Homo sapiens: one gene and its partners. The protein of the gene in region 2 interacts with the protein of the main gene of each other region in a biochemical or structural test. Each region holds a gene or a part of one and is shown on either strand. Other genes may lie near its edges. The genes, in order: RPA3, RFWD3 and ORC2.

Evidence for each region.
Region 1: of the proteins of RFWD3 (region 2) and RPA3, one has a biochemical effect on the other in vitro, tested with the Homo sapiens proteins (one study listed by BioGRID).
Region 3: the proteins of RFWD3 (region 2) and ORC2 form a complex in vitro, tested with the Homo sapiens proteins (one study listed by BioGRID).

Annotation. Positions count from the first base shown.
Region 1 is NC_000007.14:7,634,592-7,640,005, reverse strand, and holds the end of RPA3 (replication protein A 14 kDa subunit), read left to right. Parts: intron 1-861; coding exon 862-936; intron 937-2,033; coding exon 2,034-2,142; intron 2,143-2,923; coding exon 2,924-3,006; 3' UTR 3,007-3,488; downstream 3,489-5,414. UniProt on the Homo sapiens protein: As part of the heterotrimeric replication protein A complex (RPA/RP-A), binds and stabilizes single-stranded DNA intermediates that form during DNA replication or upon DNA stress.
Region 2 is NC_000016.10:74,621,878-74,630,342, forward strand, and holds part of RFWD3 (E3 ubiquitin-protein ligase RFWD3), read right to left. Parts: intron 6,790-8,465; coding exon 6,575-6,789; intron 4,678-6,574; coding exon 4,466-4,677; intron 2,195-4,465; coding exon 2,051-2,194; 3' UTR 1-2,050. UniProt on the Homo sapiens protein: E3 ubiquitin-protein ligase required for the repair of DNA interstrand cross-links (ICL) in response to DNA damage. Plays a key role in RPA-mediated DNA damage signaling and repair.
Region 3 is NC_000002.12:200,930,956-200,940,779, forward strand, and holds part of ORC2 (origin recognition complex subunit 2), read right to left. Parts: intron 7,012-9,824; coding exon 6,951-7,011; intron 4,938-6,950; coding exon 4,744-4,937; intron 3,020-4,743; coding exon 2,921-3,019; intron 494-2,920; coding exon 384-493; intron 1-383. UniProt on the Homo sapiens protein: Component of the origin recognition complex (ORC) that binds origins of replication. DNA-binding is ATP-dependent. The specific DNA sequences that define origins of replication have not been identified yet.

The DNA of each region.
Region 1 (5,414 bases), on a different chromosome or scaffold from region 2:
TCAGACGTGACGGACGCAGACAAAACTAATCTGCTGGTTTCCTTCTCTTCTGAAATTACTTATTTTTGCAAACCTCGTTTCCTCGTTGTGATCGCTTCTCTGTAAAACATGCCTTGGTTGTCCGCTTTGGGTCCCGTAGTAACGAGTTATTTAACCCCAGTATTAAAGTGAAGTTCCCTCATTCTACAGGCGAGAAACAGGCCCAAAGTCTTGGAATCAGTGACCTGAAAAGCTGAGGAAAAGAAAACTATTATATAAAGACTTATTTAGTAGCTCATTTCATCCACACATCCTCTTCCTTAAATGAGTGTTGCTCTGACTTCCCAAGTAGGGAAACTGAGTAGGAGTGGTAGGTGGTTGACTAAAATGCTCAGAAACTCGGCAAATGGCAAAGCTGGCATTCAAACGCAATCTGACAGCGCTCTTTACAGCTGCTTCCCAGGAGTAGGACCCAGATATTCTAGCAACCAGTTCTCCTTTTACTTCATCATGCCTGTTTTTTAAAACATACCCTCCGTGGGATATGTACTGTCTAAATCATGAGTGCCAGCAGATTTCACTTTTAGGGTGGGCATCCTTTAATTTGTTATCAGAATAGGGTTGCCATATTTAGCAAATACAGAACCTACTTAACACTACAAAAAAAATCCTTGTTTATCTGAAATTCAGAAATTAACTGTGTGTTCCATGAACAGATTTGATAACATAAGATTATAATTTGATCCAATAAGTTGAATAAACTGAATGAATAAACTGTTCAAGAAACAGTTGATTTGTGCTCAACTAAGGATCAATGTACTCATCTTTAGTCAAACTTTGTTGTTGTTTTAGTGAGATTTTAATTATATGTTTCGTTTTTAGATTCATCCCACCGGAAAAATGTTTATTCTTTCAGATGGAGAAGGAAAAAATGGAACCATCGAGTTGATGGAACCCGTATGTTTAAGTGTTAATAAGTCTCTTATATATTATAGTTAATTCTTCATCTTGATTTGGTTTGTTGCCGATGTTTCTAATTTTTGCAATGGATTTAAAAAGGATGAGCTGGTAAAACGTCCCTGGCTGTAAAATTTAATTCTTGTACTATTCTCTCATTATATTTCCTTTTACATTTTTAACCAATGATTTTTTGGGCGTCATGATTTTTGAACATATCCCATAAATGTTGGATAACAATTCTCATTCCTTATGAAAGACCATAAAATCACATAAGAAAAATTTACGTTGCTTTTTTCTTCCTCAAGAGGTTTTTTGTTTCGTTTTTGTTTTTTTGTTTTGAGACAGGGTCTCACTCTGTTACCCCGGGTGGAATGCAGTGGCACCATCATGGCGCACTGCAGCCTTAGCCTCCCAAGATCAAGTTGCTCCCATGTCAGCCTCCCCAGTAGCTGGGACTACAGGCATGCTTAACCATGCCTGGCTAATTTTTGTTTTGTTTTGTTTTGTTTTGTTTTGTTTTGTTTTTTGTAAAGATGGCATCTCCCTATGTTCCTCAGGCTGGTCTTGAACTCTCGGTCTCAAGCAATCCTCCTGCCTCGACCAGCCCCTCAAGAGTTTTCGATTTTATTTTATTTTCTATTTTTGTTCATATATTTCCAGTTTTTACTTATTTATGTTTGCATTTTATGTTTAACATACTTAAAACTTTTTTTGGTATTTTGTGAAGACAAATCCATATGCTGTTTGGTTAATGTATACAGAACACATTGTGAAATACAGATTATAGAAGATTCCTCTCATAGGATATTACTGCTTATAGAAATGCTGGACGTTTTCAATAGTGATTTTGTCTTTAACTTGAATTGTAGCTTTGGACTTGAAGCTACTGCTAAAGGTAGCAGGAATTTTAACATGCTGACAGTTAAGTACTCAAACATTTGTTAACAAGTTACATTTTAACTTTTACACTGGTAATTCTTAAAATTACTTTGTTACTTGAAGTGATAGATTAGTAACCTGTATAACAGTTTTCCAAAATAATTGTCAACTGAAAATGTGATATCACCAAATCGATGTCTTGTTCTGTGTCTTAGCTTGATGAAGAAATCTCTGGAATTGTGGAAGTGGTTGGAAGAGTAACCGCCAAGGCCACCATCTTGTGTACATCTTATGTCCAGTTTAAAGAAGATAGCCATCCTTTTGGTAAATAAAGCATTCTAGTATTGACTGGTTTTATGTAATTACATAACATACAGTTTTATATAACTGTATGTAATTACATAACATACAGTTTTATATAACTGTATGTAATTACATAACATACAGTTTTATATAACTGTATGTAATTACATAACATACAGTTTTATATAACTGTATGTAATTACATAACATACAGTTTTATATAACTATGTTTTAACATACATTTTGTATTACATACAAAATTGTATGTATTACATACAATTACATAACATAAACATACAGGAAAACAGTTTTATTTTTAGTTTGATATATATTGGTCTAGAGTTTTAGTACTGCCACATTTTCAATTTCTATAGAATTTTGTGATCGTAAAGGCAAATGGGGGTACATTTTGTTTTGGCCTGCTTTTAAGTAGTGCTTATATATGTAAGAAACTCAGTAAAGATTAATTAATGTTTGTTGAAAGATAATTTTTTTAAATATAACAAAAATAGTATTAGTTTTTTTGTTGTAATATCTGAATTGAAGGAATTGAATAATGCATAACACCCAAAACACTACCAGGCAGAAACTGCCTGTATAATGAACATCAAAATGGATGGTACTCCCATGTCTTTTTTTTGGTGCCACAGTTAAATACAAGAATCCATAATCCATATCTCCATTTTTAGAAACTCACTTCCAAAAGGGTGAGAAAAAGGAAATAGGTAAAAATATCTTAGATAATAATTGATGTTACAACTTTCCATTGTAGATTAAATGTTTGCTTAAATGTTTCTTTCAGATCTTGGACTTTACAATGAAGCTGTGAAAATTATCCATGACTTCCCTCAGTTTTATCCTTTAGGGATTGTGCAACATGATTGATCTTGATGGATTTTCATACGATTGTAAATGAGCTATATTAAAGTCTATTAAAGGAAGCCCTTCTTGTTTGAGGGAGAGATTTCTGTGCTTTCTCATATTTAATTTGCTGTTTTTAAGATATTCCAACCTAGAGTTTTTGATGGAACTGATATATTGACAGTTCTCACCGAAGTCCTTTTATAAAGAATTGCTACTCCAATATATGGTCAGATTAGATGCAAGAATAAAGCAGTTGTCCGAGTCTAAGTTTCTATTTTATTAATAAAAACTAAAATGGTACGTACTATCGGTCATTTCATTTTCATTCTTTTAATCATGTATTCAAGCACAAACTTGAAATTTCATAGCCATAAGGTCAAGATTTAGACCTACCAAATAAAACCTTGGGCCAGCTGTGTTAAGGATTTGCTCACCTTTTCCCAAACTATACCTTGATAATTATTTCCTTGATACCCTACTTACAAAATGAAGTAGATGACATTAAAAAGGCAAACAGAGACTGGCCACGCTGGCTTACTCCTGTAATCCCAGCACCTTGTGAGGCCGAGGCGGGTGGATCACCTAAGGTCAGGAGTTCGAGACCAGCCTCACCAATATGATGAAACCCTGTCTCTACTAAAAATACAAAAATTAGCCGGGCGTGGTGACATGCGCCTGTAATATCAGCTACTCAGGAGGCTGAGACAGGAGAATCACTTGAACCTGGGAGGCGGAGGTTGCGGTGAGCCAAGATTGCACCATTGCACTCCAGCCTAGGCAACAAGAGTGAAGCTCTGTCTCAAAAAAAGGCAAACAGAATCTTACATCTTCTGTAATCTGTGAAGTATCTCTTTTTCTGGCTTGGTTTGGTTTTGTTTTTGTAGAGACAGGATCTCACTCTATTGCCCAGGCTGGAATACGGTTGTGCAATCATAGCTCACTGCAGCCTTGAACCTCTGGGCTCAGTCTCCCAAGTAGCTCAGACTACAGGTGGGCACTACCACGCCCAGCTAGATTTTCCTAAATTTCCGTGTAGAGATGGGGTCTCACTGTGTTTCCCAGGCTGGACTCAAACACCTAGCCTCAAGCAATCCTACCGCCTTAGCCTCCCAAAGTGTTGGGATTACAGGTGTGTAACAACCATGCCCAGCCTTCCTGGGTTTTAAAATAGCATTTACTAAATTCCAAACAAGGAATATATGATCATTGAAAGAGTTGGTGGAATCATTTGACTTTCTTTTTATTCTTTTCACCTGTCTAATCTTTAGTATGGAATCTCTCTCTAGCACCATGTTGGGGGTGAGCAGGGAAGATGTGGCAGATTTGGAATAAGGTAGTATAGAATAACCGATGACCTACGTGGCCAGTTAAGTTTTATGGCTTGACCCATTCCCTTGAATAAGGAAATAATTCTAAATCCATATAGGTTATTGTAAATTATACCAAAAATACTTAGTTTTAATTAGTGTAATCTTAAATTTCAACTTCTGTCATCCAAAAATACTCTGCTCATTACTTGAGGGGCATTGCCATAGCCATTTACGGTAAAGCATTCTGTTACATGAAATGAAGACAACTGTACAGTTTATACGCTGTATAATGACTTTGGTCAATGACAGACTGCATATATGATGGTGGTCCCATAAGATCATAATGGAACTGAAAAATTCCTGTCTAAAGACAAAGGCATCGTAACATCTTAGCACAATGCATTACTCACATGTTTGTGGTGATGATGGTGTAAACAAGCCGCACAGTAGGCTGCATGTAGAAGTATGACACATAGAATTATGTATGGTACATGATACTTGATAATAAAATACCATGTTACTGGCTATGTGTTTACTATTTATCATTATTTTAAACTGTACCCCTACTTACAGGAAAAAAGGTAACTGTAAACAGCCTCAGGAGAGTCCTTCAGGAGGTCTTCCCAAAGAAGACCTTGTTATAGGAGATGACAGTTCCCTGCATGTTATGGCCCTTGAAGAACTTCCACTGGGACAAGATATGGAGGTAGAAGACAGTGATATTGATGATCCTGTATAGGCCTAGGCTAGTGTGTGTGCTTGTGTTTTAGTTTTTAACAAAAAAGTTAAAATGTAAAAAGAAAATTTAATTTTGGAAATAGAAAAAAGTTCATAAGAATACAAAGAAAAATATTTTTGTTCAGCTGTACAGCGTGTTTTAAGCTAAGTGTTATTCAAAAAGAGTGAAATGTTTTTAAAAAATTTACTGTACCTTTTTTATTTATTTACTTATTTTTTTGAGATGGAGGCTCGCTCTGTCACCTGGGCTGGAGTGCAGTGGCATGATCTCAGCTAACTGCAACCTCTGCCTCCCGGGTTCAAGGAATTCTCCTGCCTCAGCCTCCCGAGTAGCTGGGACTACAGGCGTGTGTCACTATGCCCCGCTAATTTTTGTATTTT
Region 2 (8,465 bases):
GTAGAGATGGGGTTTCACCATGTTGGTCAGGCTGGACAAGGCTTTTTTTCTTTGGAGAAATCACTCACGATCGTATGAATTTGCTTCCAAAACATCCAAATTTAATGTACTAATGCAAGGACTGGTAAGACTTAAGATTCACATAACGTCCCTCATAGTTAAGTCTCTTGCTTCCTACTATTAGTGGAATCAATCAGCATCAGGTACTTCAAAGAAAGTCAAATCCTAAGCCTGCCCAGGCCCAAAGACAAAGCCAGCCAGGACCTGACCACCTGTATCCTCTTGGTGGCAATCTGCTGAAGCCAGATGAGTTCTGCTTTTTAATTCCAATCCTATTCTGCCACTGAAACTAGGCCTGGGCAACCACTCTTAATCATTAACATATCAAAAGGAGTATCTCCTCTGAGAAAAGAGCTTTTCTCAGGTTCTAGAAGCTAGCTTTTACAAAAGACGTCTTCAAATAGGGGCCGGGTGCAGTGGCTCACGCCTATAATTTTGGCACTTTAGGAGGCTGAGGTGGGAGGATTGCTTGAGGCCAGGAGTCCAAGACCAGCCTGGACAACGTAGTGAAACATCTATTTCTACAAAAAAATTTAAAAAAGGAAAAAATTATGTCCTAAAATATTAAAGGGTCATTAAAAGGCACAACTAGAACTTGGAACTCTGGGGAAATCTAGTGCAACAACCCCTTGCCGGAGAGAAAGATCCTAGAAACAGCTCTTGAATTGACAGGTCAGAAGTGTTTTATAATAAAAACGATAACAACTCTTCAATAATCATTTGAGAAAATCAGACTGTTAAGCCATTTTCTCCCATGAACAGGACACTGACCTGCCCACATCTTGAAGCATATTCTGTTGTGGAAGTGGGTTGGCAAAGTAGTCTGAGGCAAGGCAAAGAAATACAAACTGAGCCCTAGAAAAGGTTAGGGAGGCAAATCAAAGGAAACTGGAATCAAACATCAGCTTCACATGGGGAAGGCTTTAACTGGATAACTGGAATGTATAAAGAACACTTAAGAACAGCCCCTCAGTCTGAGGAATTGGCTTTATTTAGATAGGAACTCTCAAAATGGGAGACAAGTTCTTCTCATGTTTTCAATAGCAGTCTGAATAGCTTTTGTAAATTCTCTTATGTCTTTTCTCCTGATCTCTGACACTAGGGGAGACTCAAGTAAAAGCTTTGACCTATCACTCATCTTTTCCTGGCAAGAGATAGTGTTCTTCAAAGCACTAGCTTGGATAAAACCAATCCTGAGATCCTAAGCTGGCTAGAAAAAACAAAATCTTCCCCACCGCTCAAACAACTGGCCTCTTTCCTTACCTTTCGCAAAGCAATGAACTTAATGCACTAGGCATTAGCAAAGGGAATCGTTCACTAGCTGCTTCCATCACTGGGCCTGCCAATGTCCCAGCACTTCACACCTGGAACACAAGTGTTATTGCCACAAAGCACACCCAGGTGTGCTATCACACACTTGTGTGGAGATGAGACAAGTTACTAAAAGATTGTCAGCCTTCAAGGTCAGAAATAAACCGGACACAAGGTTCTACAGTGCCCTCTTGTGTTCAACTGAATAATACTCTTTTACATCTACGTTGCATCAAATCAGTACCAAGACGATGGTTAGTCCCTTCAAGGATACTTAAGTGACAGGACAACTCAGATGGGATGTCATATTCCCCAGAAAATGCTTGATGCCCACTCACATCCTAGATGATGAGAGGACACTCTCTAAGGTCCAGAAAGTCACACAGAAAATAAAGAAAATAAGAATTTCCAACATACAATAATGGTTAATGAAGGCTTTAAACCCAAGAAATGGATAATGTAGATAAAGTACCCATCAATTACTCTTTTAGTGGACATAACAGATACACAATCTGTAGTGTCTCAGTGACCTAGGGTCCTAGAATCATACTAATGCAAACAAACCATGATTCCCAATGTTCTAGACTGCAGACAATAAACAGGGATCTTGCTTGGGGCTGCTAGGCGCTAGCAAACAACATCTAACCAGCAGCATGCCTTCAAGGTTTCGAGACCACAGTCACTCCCACTTATAGATGTGGACCATCTTCTCTGTTAAGGTAGCCAAGTAGCTGTTACGGTTCACCTCAAATGGGCAGATGTCCAACACAGGCTGATCGGTCTGTAGGTCCTGGAGCAACGAGCCACTGGCAGCATCCCACAGCTAAAGAACACAAGCAGAGGGAAGGGTCAGGAGTCAGTCAGTACACGAAGGGACTTCCATTCTTCATCATCTAACAAGTCTGAAAGGCTGCAGAGAGAACACTACCTGGAGAGCAAAGCAGGCTGTCCCTAACCTTTGCAAGGTTGTTCAAAGTCAGCACACCTGACATAGTTCAGGTACAGCCTCACCTACTGTAATCAGCAATTAGTCTACCTGTAAGTGGACCTGAAATAAAGCCCAGCTTCCATTCATTCAATGTGCCAGCCTCTTCTAGGGACAGAAGGGTCAATAAGATAAAGTCCCTGTCTTTGCCCTCATGGAACTCACCCTTTTTTTTCTTTGAGACGGAGTCTCACTCTTGTCACCCAGGCTGCAGTGCAGTGGCACGATCTTGGCTTACTGCAACATCTGCCTCCTGGGTTCCAGCGATTCTCATGCCTCAGCCTCCCAAGTAGCTGGGATTACAGACATCCACCACCACGCCCGGCTAATTTTCTTGTATTTTTGGTAGAGATGGGTTTCACCATGTTGGCCAGGCTGGTCTAGAACTCCTGACCTCAGGTGATCCACCCACCTTGGCCTCCCAAAGTGCTGGGATTACAGGCGTGAGCCACCGCGTCTGGCCTCTAAAAATTTATTATTGGCCAGGCATGGTGTCTCACACCTGTAATTCCAACACTTTGGGAGTCTGAGATGGGAGGACAGCTTGAGGATAGGAGATTGAGACCAGCTGGGGCAATACAGCAAGAATCCAATCTCTACAAGAAAAAATTAGCCAGGTGTAGTGGTGCATGCCCGCAGTCCCAGCTACTCAAGAGGCTGAAGGAGGATTGCTTAAGCTGAGGAGTTTGAGGCTACAGTGAACCATGATTGCACTACTGCACTCCAGCCTGGACCGAGTAAGATACTGTCACTTAAAAACAAACAAACAAACAAACAAAAAGAAATGAAAAATATTTTGAAGTATTAAAAAGTAGAGCTAGCCGGGCATGGTGGCACACACCCATAGTTCCAGCTACTTGGGAGGCTGAAGCACAAGAATCACTTGAACCCAGGAGGTGGAGGTTGTAGTAAGCCAAGATTGCACCTCTGCACTCCAGCCTGGGCAACAGAGCAAGACCCTGTCTCAAAAAAAAAAAAAAGTAGAGAGGGACAGAAAAAAAAAGGTAGAGAGCACGGTGGCTCATGCTTGTAATCTTAGTAGTCTGTGAGGCTGAGGTGAGAAGACTGCTTGAGCCCAGGAGTTTGAGACCAGCCTGGGAAACATGGCAAAACCCTGTCTCTACTAAAAATACACAAATTAGCCGGGTATGGTTGGTGTGCACCCAGCTACTTGGGAAGCTGAGGCACAAGAATTGCTTGAACCTGGGAGGTGGAGGTGGCAGTGAGCCGAGATTGCGCCTCTGCACTCCAGCCTGGGTAACAGAGCGAGACCGTCTCAAGAAAAAAAAAAAAAGGACAGACCAGGCGCAATGGCTCACGCCTATAATCCAACCTTTTTTCTTCTGCCATTGACTTGTTGTGGAAGCCAGATCAGCTGTCTTATAGAACGCCCACAACCCGGACTTGTGTATATGCTTTCTGTGCTATCATTAAACTTGTTCTCCTCTATTCCCTGCAACTCCAGTCAATGAAAGTTAGCGCTAGCTTCTAGAGTGGCACTATACAATATGGTGGCCTCTAGTCACACAAGTTTATATTTAACTTGATTAAAATTAAACATTAAGTTCTTCCTTGGCACTAAGCACACTTTAAGTGCTCATGTGACTAGTGTGACTGTACTGGACAGTGCTACTCTAGGCCTTAATCAGACTCAGGTTCAAGAACATCTCAGCTGGGTGCAATGGCTCACGCCTCTAATCCCAGCACTTTGGGAGGCCAAGGCCGGCAGATCACTTGAGGTCAGGAGTTCCAGACCAGCCTGGCCAACACGGTGAAACCCTGTCTCTACTAAAAATACAAAAATCAGTCGGGCATGGTGGTGGGGTGCCTGTAATCCCAGCTACTCAGGAGGCTGAGGCAGGAGAATCACTTGAACCCAAGAAATAGAGGTTGCAGCAGTTCAGTCAAGATCTACAAAGCAATACGGAAAGCACGACTCATGGAAACCAAGCAATCTCACATACACACATATGCGGATATGTGGGATTACAGAGCAGAACTTACACTTTTTTGCTATATGAGCTTCTGTAAAAAAAGTTCATGTTTTCCCTTACCAATATTTTAAGCAAAACTACTTTTTATATGAAAGTAAAAAAGTAACAGGCTCACCAGGGCAGAATTTGCTGCTTCATCCCCAGTACACACCAGGATGTTGCCATCATTCTCTGGGCTTTGGAAAATGGCATTTTTGGTCAATAGTTTGCAAGTAGGTCCTCCAAAAAATGTATGTACAGGCTGGCAGGAGCAGATTGGATTTCCAGTGTCATCCAGTCGGTAGGACATTTCCATCAGCACACTTCGTATGGTGGTGTGATTTTTATCTATGGGACAGAGAAATCAGTGCTGCACCATGGGGACGCTACACAAAAAATTAACCAAGTACCCAAACCTCACACGCTTACAACCTAGTTGGATGGAAAAGCCATAAATGCATTAAACCATCAAGAACAGTTACAAAACAAATGAAAGAACAATATCACAGCATCAATGAAATTTAGAACCGTAGGCTAGCATCAGTGAAATTTAGAACCATAGGCTAGGAATCAAGTTATCTACAATAGCTTTTTGCTTAAGAGAAAAACAATTCTGTGAGTTGTCTGTTTTAGTAAAATCAGTCTCCTGCCAGACCTCTGCTAGGGGATTTCTCTCTCAAGAATTCTCAGTAAAAGGTTTTTCCCTTCCCCCAGTGAGAACCTCATTAGCCCCTGGGACTGCACATTTTTATAAAGTGAAAGCATGCTATTACAGAAAGGGAAACATGTATCTGAAATTCTGCTGGGAGGCAAACAAAAGCAAGATAACAAAATAGGACCCCCAGGCTTTGTACACCAGTCACAACAAATCACAGTCTTGGAGACAGCCGAGCTGTGGGATGATGAAGAGCCAAAGGGTCTGAAGTGGTACTGGGATGTTTCTCAGCTCAAACAAAACTTAAAAACATGAGTAGACCCACCCACAACTAGCAGAAGTGTGAGCATTTAATGACTAACTCTGACTATACATCTGCCTGACTGTTACAAATGTGTTTAATACAGTTGTTACCTCAGCATCTGTTTTTAGGGCTAGCATAAATTATTTGAAACCCAGATGTACCCTGTCAACTTTGGCCTAGTTAAAACATCCCTTCCCTGAGCAGAGGTTTGAAATATAGCCCACTTGTCCCTCCCCTCCACCCCTACCCCACCCCTAAGGGAGCAGGCCTGTCCTGGATGGCTCCCCCTTCTTCCCATTGGCCCCTGAAGCATGCTGCCCTCTTCTCTGTGGGATCTGTCAAGTAAGCTGATTCCGTTATTTCCTGTGTTTTGTGCACTGCCTCCTTTGTGTCTCACCTGACCAACACACCTGAACCTAACTTGTTTCCTAGTCAGGGCTCTTCTAGAGAGTCACTATCTCAAGGGAAATGAACTAGACACAGTTCAGACAAGAGCCACAAGGGTACCTGCCAGTACAAACAAGTTTCCTGTGAGAGGGACATCTGGTCATGGGTCAGGCAGGCATTAGGCCATCTGCCAGGACAGAGGAGTATCCTGTGAAAGGCAAACTATGAACACCCACAACGAACTCCCTAGTGTTTGGCAGGACAGGGCTAGAGTTTATAGCCACTCTCCTGACAGAGACCTCAAGACCAAATTAGAAAGAAAAAACCTAGAACACTGACCATCAGTACAGTTTACCAGGAATTTAGATTCATGCCGCTTAGCCTAGAAAGAACCTGTGAATGAAGCACAGTCTGCTGTTATGCGTTCCACCTCTGATTCCAGAGGCAGAGATGTTCAGCTGGCTGGGCACACACAGCCACTGTTGTCCATTTCAGTATGCCAGCCGGGCTACTACATGGCTGCCCTAATCTGGGCCTTTCTCTCAGGGGAAGTAAGAGGCAGGCAGAAGATACGAAAGTGATCTCAAGGTGGCTCAATGACCTAGAGCTGGCCCCCTTGTTCCACTACTGTTCTAAACTGTAGGGGCTCCTAAGTGGCTAATTCACTTCCAGGAGTACCTGGCAGAATATGCTCCAGTCCTCACACGTAAGGAGCAGGGAGGCAGGCTCTGTGGGGGAGCTTGGAGCCACCATACTCCCTGTAGTAGCAAGAGCTACAACACACCTCGTTAGCCTGTGAGCGGTACCACAGCCACCCAAAGGGTAGGATCAAACCCTCCTTCCCTTTTCTCTACCACTGTGCTCCCAAATAAGCTATGGGAGACCCCAGCACTACTTACCAGGCCTGTAGGTCACAAGACAGTGCCGGGAGCTGTTCTCTGTCTGAAAGTCTATGCAGCCCCCTGGCTCCAAGGGCAGCACATGAGGCCAATGAGAAAAGTCCATTTTCTGTTCCCAGAATGAAGCATCCTCCAAGGTTCCAGCCAGCACCCCACCATATGGAAATGCAGCTGAGGCAGCTCTGGGCATGTATGACAGGGAGACCAGTGGGCATCTGAAAGGAAAGTAAGGAAACTGTATCTCACACTCCAAAACTCGGACGGCTCCAGACCCCACTACCAGACCTCAAGCACATTCCCACCTCTGCAGAGGAGGTTAAACGCCTTTAGTCACTATCCTCTGATATCTGATAAAAATTATCAACCCTCTCTGTAGAAACAAAAGGACATACATATAATATTCTGCAACTAATTTCAGGTGAGATACCAGATGCTCTAAAAGAAAAGGAAAAAAAGAACTAGGAAATTTAAGGGATACAAGATCACAATTACTATGAAGCTTGACTGATGTGAAGCTTCTGGAAATGGGTTTAGCCACATAAGAAAAGTCAGAAAAGAAACAAAGCTTATATACATAACAAAATAAAGATCCCAAGTTGTAGTTGACAGACCCCACAATTAAAATACAGCTAAAAGCAGCTACATTTTAATTCAGAAACAGGACTGTTTTAGGTTTTCTAAATTTCCTTCTGCAAGCATATGACCAGGACTATGCGCCAAGAATTCTCTCAGAAATATCATCCTTCCGACTGTGTTCCTATCAACTCATTTCTGCTATGAAGTCGTTCGTGCCAAAGTTGCCAAAGTGTCTACTTTGCCTGTTTTATTTTCCCTGTCACAATAAAGGTAATCAAAGTAAACAAAAATAAAAATGAACATTACATACAAATATTCTTTCCTTGCTATTTTAAAACTTGCTGTGTTTGGCTGGGCATGGTGGCTCACGCCTGTAATCCCAGCACTTCGGGAAGCCGAGGTGGGAGAATCACTTGAGGTCACCGGTTTGAGACCAGCCTGGCCAATATGGTGAAACCCCATCTCTACTAAAAATACAAAAGTTAGTCAGGTGTGGTGGCACACGCGTATAGTCCCAGCTACTCGGGAGGTGGAGGATGCAGTGATCCAAGACTGTGCCACTGCACTCCAGCCTGGGTGACAGAGTGAGACACCATCTTAAAAAAACAAAACAAAACAAAAAAACCACTACCACCAACAAAAAAAAAAAACCTTGCCATATTTTACTGTCTACTCTATTTGGGCCTAGGTTTCAGTAAAGAATTATTACTTTAGTGGTATCTTTATGTTTGGCTCTCCTTGCTCTTTTTAATATATCCAGTTGGAAACATAAATTATCTGTTAAGATACTTCAGATTTTGGCCAGGTCACAGACCCTACTCCCTTTTTGATAACTTTATACCTACAGGGCAGCTCAACACATTCTAAGACAGAGTGGTGCTGGTGGCCATCCATCCTCAGAACTTGGGCTCACTTTATAAACTTCTCAATCTCATAACTGGATTAAATGATAAATAATAATAATATGGTATCTTCAAACAAGTTGGTTTAGCTTTGGATTAGGGAAGTTTTAAATCACTTTTGATTAGGTTACCCTTAACTGATCTCTTCCTATGTGCTAGACATGTGGCTATTTTTTTTTTTCTTGAGATGGCGTCTCACTCTGTTGCCCAGACTGGAGTGCAACGGCGCAATCTCGGCTCACCGCAACCTCCGCCTCCGAGGCTCAATAGATTCTTCTGCCTCGGCCTTCTGAGTAGCTGGGATTACAGGCGTGTGCCACCACGCATGGCTAACATTTTTTTGTATTTTCAGTAGAGACGGGGTTTTACCACGTTGGTCAGGCTGGTCTCGAATTCCTGACCTCCTGATCTGT
Region 3 (9,824 bases), on a different chromosome or scaffold from region 2:
TATTATCCTTTCATTTAAAGAACTATGCTGTGGAAAACTTTATAATTTTTTTTTCTAATTGTTATATTTATTAATCTTGACAAAGGAAATATTCAAGTTTTTTAAACCAATAACATAATTCTAAGAAATGCTATTTATCTTATCAATGGCTGTCAAGTCTGATAAACACAAATTTCTTAAAAACTGTAGAATTTCTGGGAAGAGTCATACAATAAAGTGACATTTCTATATCTGAGTCATAATGTCTATTTTTACATTTATTTTTATATATGACTAAATATCTGAAACTCACTGTAAAAAGAAAAATGTTAACTTACTTTAACATAAAGATTCATGTAAATATTATTCTTTATTTTACAAGGGTTTGTAATGATAATACTTACTGTAATTGCAGCATCCATTTATGAAATAATTTTTCATACTGTTGATTTAGTTGTTTAAGTTCGGCAGAAAAGGAAGGGGAAACCTTGCTCAATAAGTTACGCAAAGTTTGCTTTAAAAAAAAGGAGGAGGGGAAAAAAGTCATTCTCAAAGCACAGACAGCAAATCAATCCAAACAATTTCCTTAGAAGTAGAGCTTAGAAGAAGCCAATCCAATTGGAATATTACTTTAATCTGGTTTGGCAATGAGTATATCAACCGATAAACAAAATTCTTAAAAAATAATTTTTTTGTTTTCTTAAAATTGTTAACATTCTTTTTAGTAATAACAGTAAAGAATTTGGTAAGTTTTGTCCAGAACCACTTAAATGATTATAAACTCCAAGAATAGGCTTTACTTTCTCAGAAAACATTAAAGGTTCTTTATAATTTACTTACTATTATCATTAGTAAAATAAACCTATATCACTGCTCCTCTTCCAAAAGCTGTTTCTAACAAATCCTTTATCTTTGGTAAGTATTGCAAATTTTTAAAAACAATAATATAAATAAACTGAGGAAAGTGCATTGCCCTGTACCCCAAACTTGGAAATTCATGCTGATGAATCAGAGATCATTTTTTGAAATGAAAACTCTAGCAAAAAGCTACACATGGGTCTTCACTTTGGCACTACCATGTTTTCATGATTCCACCACCTTTCAAGTAAAATATTATTTAAATACTGAAGATTAGAGTTGCGATAAATATTCCAGGTACTCTGGCTTGTACTGTGTTTATTTAGTCACAGTTAAAGCAAACAGAACTACCTTTAAGTAAAATTGTTAAGTAGGTAGTTAAAAAAAAACAACTCTTATCTCTTCTGAGTTCAGAGCCCTGAAAAAGCAGAGAAAGCACTAATATCTTTTCCAGCAGTCATTTACACTAGATTATCTGAGCATATTCACACTTGAGTGTGAACACTAGAATGTTATCTCATGTATGTACTTTCATTTCAAACTTTTTTTTTTTTTTTTTTTTTTTGAGACAGAGTCTTGCTCTGTCACCCAGCCTGGAGTGTGGTGGCACAATCTCAGCTCACTGCAAACTCCACCTCCCAGGTTCAAGCGATTCTCCTGCCTCAGCCTCCTGAGTAGCTGGGAGTACAGGCGCGTGCCACCACGCCTGGCTAATTTTTGTAGTTTTAGTAGAGATGGGGTTTCACCATGTTGGGCAGGCCGCTCTCAAACTCCTGACCTCGTGATCCTCCCGCCTTGGCCTCCCAAAGTGCTGGTATTACAGGTGTGAGCCTCCATGCCCAGCCTCATTTCAAACTTTAATTAATATTCATGGAAAACTGCACTTTCGACCCCAATATCCAGCTGTACTAGAATGAAGCAGAACTGGCAATCTAGTTTTGAGCCTGGGCTGTAAGAGATTGTGTGTTTTCCCACTTTTCCTCTTATGCCTCTGCCACTGTCATGAGGATAACATGCCTCAGCTAGCCTGCTGGTCCAACGAGGAAAAGAAACATGGAGCAAATCCTAGATCAGCCAACTTCTGACTGACTTGCAGACATGAAAAATGCTTATTGTCACATGCTACTGAAGATTGTATTGGTTAGCTATGCTATGTTTACGCCCAATGAAAGGCTTTCGTCTCCCTCACTGACAGGTGTTTCTTTCATCCTCCTAGAGATCTTTTTGCCTCTAAGTCTGATGAAGTCCTATTGTGAGTCTAGACTCATGTGTCCTTCTCCCATATTGCTTATATTCTCTGATCCGAGTCTCAATACCAATGAGCCAGGACTTAGATTATCAATTGCAATTATTACTGACAAAGATTTTCTCACTCAGATGGTTCTGTCTCCTCTCACAGAGATGTAAAACCCCAGCAAGTATAACTGTATGGTATTTTTTTTTTTTTTTTTTTTGTAAAATGAGCTACTGGAACCATGGTACATAGTAATCTTGTTACCTTACCACACTGGGCAGGTTTTCCATAATATCCTCAAGCAGAATATCCTCTACTTTGTGCAAAGTTTTTAACTGAGAGAAAGTCAGGTTGCAGTTGCTGTTTTATGACCAGTGTGAGATTTAGTGAATACATATAGGTTAAATGAATAACAGAGATAAATGGTAAATGGATATCAAGGAACTATGACCCTGATGATTATCATAGATCCTGAAGAAATAATAAACGAGTAAGAGGGGAAAAATGCATAATTACAGTCTGTCTAATCCAGTAAATTATTTATTTATTTATTTAAATTTTTAGTAACAACGAGGTCTCCCTATATTGCCCAGGCTGGTCTCAAACTCCTGTGTTCACATAATCCTCCTCCCTTGGCCTCCCAAGGTGCTGAGATTACAGGTATGAGCCAGGTGTGCCCGGCCTATTTACTATTTATATAATAAAAGAAGTAATAATCACATTAACTTGTGTTTCATTTGATCAGGACAATAATTCTACTTGTGTATACTTTTCAAATCTGTTGCTTACGTAGCATATTTTTCAGGACAGAGTAAAAAAAATTTAGAAGTAACATTCCTTGTAACATACCTGATCCAGTTTAGCTCTCTTTAGCTTCTGCAGTGTTCTATCAGAGGTTAAAACTTTTGAACTGCTGTGAGCTTCAAAATATTCTTCTACTAAGTCACTCTGAAAGTGAACAGAGTAGTCAGTCCTTAGTAGCTTCAAATATCTGTCTCATATCAAAATTAGACAGTAATATTAATGTAAAATAGGACACGTGAAATTCTTTACTTGGTAGTATTTTCTTTTTAAAGCAACAGTACCAGTTAAGGACCAAGCATATTTAATTTCAGTAATAAAACTGAGTAATTACTAGGATCATATAAGTTAAAGAAATGACTAGGTGAAGTAGTAGTCTGTTCCTAAAAATGATTCCTAAGTTACAATATGTAATTTCCATTTAGACTAAAAAAAGAGAGATGGTTTTATATATCAAGATCTTTGTTTCTCCTCAAGTAAGTCTTTTTTTTTTCCTTTCTTTATTGAGGAAGGGTCTCACTCTGTCACCCAGGCTGCAGTGTAGTGGTGCAAATACAGCTCACTGTACCCCCAACCTCCTGGGCACAAGGGATCCTCCTACCTCAGCCTTCCAAGTAGCTGGGACTACAGGCATGCACCACTACACCTGACTAATTTTTTAAATTGTTTTTTTTTTTTTTTTGCAGAGACAGGGTCTTATTATGTTATCCAGGCTGGTTTCAAACTCCTGGCCTCAAGCAATCCTCCCACCTTGCCCTCCCAAAGTGTTGGGATAACAGGCATGAGCCACCATGCCTGGCTTCAAATAGTCTTAGCAAATCCTTTAATATTAGTATAGCTGAAGTACTGTGAAAATGAGGAAATCAACTGCAAGGTAACAAAAGAAAAAAAAGAAACCCACAAACAAATAAAAAAACTGGCCTACTATTCCAGTCAAGCGGAATTTTCTTCTCACACTATTTGTTCTTCTGATTTTGGGCAGGACTAAACTCTAGGGTGGTAAGGAAGGGACAGAAAGCTATTTAAGCAGTAGGCTCCTCAATTGCTCTGAACCTTTAGACAGAGCACCAGGATAATTAGCCTTTTCTAAAACCAAGGTGCCTGCAATGTTCTTCCAAATGACTCAACATGGGTCCCTAGCCACATCATTCATTACACTGACTTGAATACATTGACAATGGTACAAAAACAAGATACACTGAGAACTCATGCCTCCAATTGTCCAATCAATATTTACTTAAAAGTTCATTTTTTATTTTTGTTATTTTTTATTCTAATCCCATAGCTTATTTAAAAATTTATTTATTTATTTTTGAGACGGAGTTTCGTTCTTATTGCCCAGGCTAGTACAATGGCATGATCTCGGCTCACTACAGCCTCTGCCTCCTGGGTTCCAGCAATTCTCCTGCTTCAGCCTCCCGCGTAGCTGGGATTACAGGCACACATCACCACACCTGGCTAATTTTTGTGTTTTTAGTAGAGACAGGGTTTCACCATGTTGGCCAGGCTGGTCTCGAACTCCTGACCTCAGGTGATCCACCCGCCTTGGCCTCCCAAAGTGCTGGGATTACAGGCATGAGCCACTGTGCCCAGCCTAAAAAGTTCATTTTTATACAGTGGAATTGAGATGTCACTTTTAGCATATACTATTTAGCATATACTATGGTATTAATTCATGAATATGTAGACAGGCCAGAAAAGAAAGCCCAGAAGTAGAAACAAATATATGTGGGAATTTATGTGGAAGGCTGAGAAAATATAGAAAAGTGAAGAAAAAATATTATTTTGAGAGATGTGGATCTCTTAGGGTAGCCTATCTTTGAAATATTACACAATTTTTCTTTAAGGTTAAAGTCTCTCTCTTCACTTACTGTTTTATCTCTTTTCATTCTCTTAGAAGGTGTTTCTTTGCCAACAGGAGCTGAAACTACTCTATTCTGAGCTTGAATCTTTTGGCTGAATATGACTGCATTAGTGTCCTCTTCATGTTCCTGTGCAACCCCTTCATCATCCTCTGAGTTGGAAGCAGAATATTCGCTTTCACTGTCAGAATGAGACCTTGGAACTGTGGGGGGAAAAATAGCAATTTGGACAATTTCATGGTTTGACAAGAGAGGCATTGTGGGGTAAAGCAAAGAGTGGGGGCTCTGTAGTAAGAGTCTGAATTCTGGTTTTGTCATTACCTGCTCATGATTTCACCAGAGCTAATTAACAAATTCTCTCAGCACCAGTTTATTTATCAAATTAATAGTACATAGTTTAATAAACCATTAGGAAGATTACATTGAAATGTATATAAAGCCACTAATAATTCCTGACACACAGGAACTGTGATAGAAATTGTTAATCATACCTAACACCGTTCTCCTTCCCTCTTCCTTGCTAACAGAACTCCAATTTTGCAAAATATGGCAATATGCCCCATCCTAGGGGATGAATCATGGTAACTGCCTTTTTCCTCTTCAAGGTACCTGCTTTCCCAGCCTCTGCTCCAACTATGGTTGACTATGTGACCCCTTGACCAGTGAATTGAGGGAAAATAGCTGGCAGCTTCTGAGAAGGATTTTCCTCAATTACGGAAGAAAAGCCCCTATTTATACCCATCGTTTAAAGCTATGAAAGCCATTTTGCAATATGAAGTATCAAACCTAAAGATGAAAAATGCTGGTGGCAGAGTAAAAGATAGGAAGAATCTGGGTCCTTAATGATACTGTTAAGTCACATCAACCATGGAACTTGCATCTCCATACTTGTTTTGATGTGAGATACTTAAATGTCTATGGCTTAAACTACCATTATAGAATTTTCTGTTGCTGCCTACTGAAAACGTCATACTAACTAATATAGCACTCAATAAATGGTACTTATGATTATAATTATTACTAATACATACACATACACCATCCCAGAGTTGATTCAAGAATTGTCTTTTTAAACAAACCACAACCTCATCCCTACAACTCCCCAGAAATAATATAGCTAGTTTTACATTTATCAAATAAGAATAAAGCCAGTTTCACACTAAACAGGCATAAAACTGTTTTTAAAAGCTAACTTCCAAAATATGAGTGAAAAAACTTAAACAAATCAGCATATTTATTCTGAACAACAGATATACTGCAGAGGATTATCCCAAGTCAGCATGTAACAAATGTAGATATTAAAAAAAAAAAGAAAAAAAAAGGCTTGATTTTGTGGGCATATATAGCTCAGCAGATTCAGGTGTGCATTGACTGCTGCTCGTGGTACATGCACAGTTAGAAGTGGTGGCAGGTACCAGAAAGTATCTCTACCTTCTTTACATGTATGCTTCCTCCATGTAGGTATATATGTTTTGTGGTGATTAAGAAGGAAGAGGGAAGTTCACCTTCTCTCTAAAAAACAACCCATATTTGGGATGAGGAGAAAACATAAGACATGGGATATAGTTGACATGAAATAACAATCACAACTATACAGATCTTTTACTGCTTTAATATACCAAATCATTTAGCATTACCAATTTTATGGTGATTAAAAATACAGTTTTAACAACTCTATGAAATCCATACCTTGAAAAGAAAGGGCTATGAAGTATGAAGCCCTGATGTTAGGCTGAATTTAACAATGTTGACTAATACTATTATTGTCAAGGGTCAACATTATGAAAGGTGTTGACATCTTCCTGATATATAAAGGTCCAGTCATTTGCCTCAAAGTTCAATATTCAAAAATCTGAAACGATTTTTAATTTCCTAGAAGGCAGAAGCCATGTCTGTTTACTTGACTTTGTTTAGCATTCAGTACAACTATGAATATTTAATATTATTTCATTATAAAATTTCCAAATAAATCAATAGAATAATTTCCAAACTGTCTCAAAACAATTAAAAGGCATGTTATTTCATTGGAAAGACCTTTTAGCTGACTTCAATATACACTGACTACAATGTGAAAGACATGGTGCTAAGTGTTGCAACTAAAAGCCAAAGATTCAAAACACCAAGCAGTCTAAGTCTAGAACCTATATACTTAACTATTATTGCCTCTTGTTTAGATGCTACTTTTTATAAAAAGTCATGTAAAAACAAATACGTACCTATTAATCTTTTTCTTAGACTACGAGGTGCTGTTGACAGAAATTCACTTTTGTCATTGTTCTGTTTAGAAATAGAAAAAGCATTAAATAATAACATGGAAATTAATGACTGATCTGAGTGAAAGAGGCTAGAAAAAAAGAAAAATATTTTGCTTTCAATAGACTGCATTAGAACTAGATGAGCTTAGTTCCTAGAACTAGAAGATTATGACAAATGGGTTCAAACCATTCTCCTGCCTCAGACTCCCAAGTAGCTGTGATTATAGGCACGTGCCACCACACCCAGCTAATTTTTGTATTTTTAGCAGAGACAGGGTCTCACCATGTTGGCCAGGCTGGTCTCAAAACTCCTGACCTCAAGTGAACCGCCCACCTTAACCTCCCAAAGTACTGGGATTATGGGTGTGAGCCACAGCGCCCGGCCCAATGGAGTATTTTTTTAAAAGATAGTATTATGTAGCAATCATAAGTATGAAAGGGAACGGGCACCCCTATGTATATGGCAATGGGCCTTTTAATGTGCTAGAAATTTACTGGTGTTAAAGTATTACATTCTTTGAGGAGAGAAGGAGAGATTTACACTTTCTTACTTTCTGTATTTAAAAAATTGTAACTTTTTGTAGGAGTACAAAGTCTGTTTTTTTATAGAATACTTTAATACCATAAATTGTTAGCACATTAAAACATCCACTGTTATATACCTGTAAATTTCTAATAGTACTGATAAAAAAGTTAAAGTACCCTGTGATTTTGTCAACATGACAATATGACAAAAAAATTTAAGTTTATTGTCTTGTGATAGATTGCTGGTGTCATTAAAATCTGATTTGATTTTAAGAATAGTACTCTAGGCCGGGCACAGTGGCTCATGCCTGTGTAATCCCAGCATTTTGGGAGGCCAAGGCGGGCAGATCACCTGAGGTCGGGAGTTTGAGACCAGCCTGACCAACATGGAGAAATCCCGTCTCTACTAAAAATACAAAATTAGCCGGGCGTGCTGGTGCATGCCTGTAATCCCAGCTACTCGAGAGGTTGAGGCAGGACAACTGCTTGAACCTGGGAGGTGGAGGTTGCGGTGAGCCGAGATCACGTTATTGGACTCCAGCCTGGACAACACAATGAAACTCTTCCTCAGGGGGAAAAAAAAAAAAAAAGAATAGTACTCTAATAACTGAGCTAATCCCTTACCAATGGAATTACAGTATGTCTCAAATTTTTTGATCAAGATCCTCAAAAATTTTTACATTTTGTCATCTTGACCCAGTACACGTGTATATATAACTAAAAAAAATTATAAAACAGAAATTTAAAATTCTGTTCTACTTCATTTGTTAAAAATGCAGTTTATGTCCTATTAAACTGATTTCAAGATTGAGTATTGAGATAACTTATATATATCTACACAGCTTAAGTCTGAGAATTCACAACACCTGTGTCAAAATAACCACTGCAGAAAATTCCTGCTCAAAAAGACAAGACTAATAAATAATTTTTTCCTACTTGCTATAGAACATTTCTGCAAACTAATCTCTCTTGACAGTTTGCTCATTTGGGCAAACTGTTCTCCCTATCAGGACAACAGATTACTCCTAGGGCAAACAGCTTATCTTATCAACAGTTTAGTTATCAAGATACACTTTAAGACACGATCTTCACTGTGTCTACCAATCCTAAAATATCATGTCCCTAACTTTGCCCAATCCCAATCAGTTTACCATTTTGAAAAACCTGCTTTAAGCCACTTGAGCCCAGGATCCCCAAGCCCGATACATATTTTCTCTTGAACTTGCTTTTCTAAGACAGTACACTAAGATTCTGTCACAACGATGTTGTCTCTTATTGTGATAGGTAGCTTTGTTTCATCAACAGGTTTTTCTGGTTTTTTGGGAGAGTTGACAATATCTTCTAATGGGTTATAATCTATAACTTGAGAAAGAATAATCTAAATTCTTGATTAGATTATGGCAATGAGTTTTTTTCCTTTTATAGTGATAGAACACACAAGACATAAGAAAAAAGCATTATTAAAGACAAATGAAAGTCTGGCATGTCTAATCCCATACCTAGACTTGTCTAAATAGGACATTCCTGCACAGGCCATAACCATGGCCTTAAATGTCTATACTGACTGTGGAGACAAAAGTTACTCCATCTTGGATGCTAATCCATCACGTTAACTTCTGATTAGCCCCAGTCTCATGAATGCCTCCTGATTCCTACTTTATGTACTGCCTTCTGTGAAAGAACATGTCAACCTTGATATTATCACACAAATTACTGGCTACAATGCATATAGCATTCTTGCCCTCTTGACAATTAAAGAGGGTTGCCTTTAATTATCTTGCTGGAACATGTATACCCTTTCCTTATGGTAGGTAAGCCGTGGGTCTGGGGAGTAACACTGCAGAGAGCTACCTGTCTTGTGGCTGCCCAAGACCATGCTTCTGTCTCTAATAAAATACCCTTTACAGACAAACTAAACTTGTCTGCCTTGTCCTTTGGTTTCTTGGCTCCTTTGGCATTTGGGGGATGCTTTGCATATATGGCCCTTTCATGGAACACTCACCACTTGAAAAGGCATAATGAGAAAATTATACCACAAAAACACAAAGGAGGCCAGGCGTGGTGGCTCACACCTGAAATCCCAGTACTTTGAGAGGCCCAGGTGGATGGATCACTTGAGGTCAGGAGTTCAAGACCGGCCTGGCCAACATGGTGAAGCCTTGCCTCTACTAAAAATACAAAAATTAGCCAGGCGTGGTGGTGCACACCTGTAATCCCAGCTACTCAGGAGGCTGAGGTGTAAGAATCACTTGAACCTGGAAGGTGGAGGTTGCAGTGAGCCGAGACCACGCCACTGCACTCCAGCCTGGG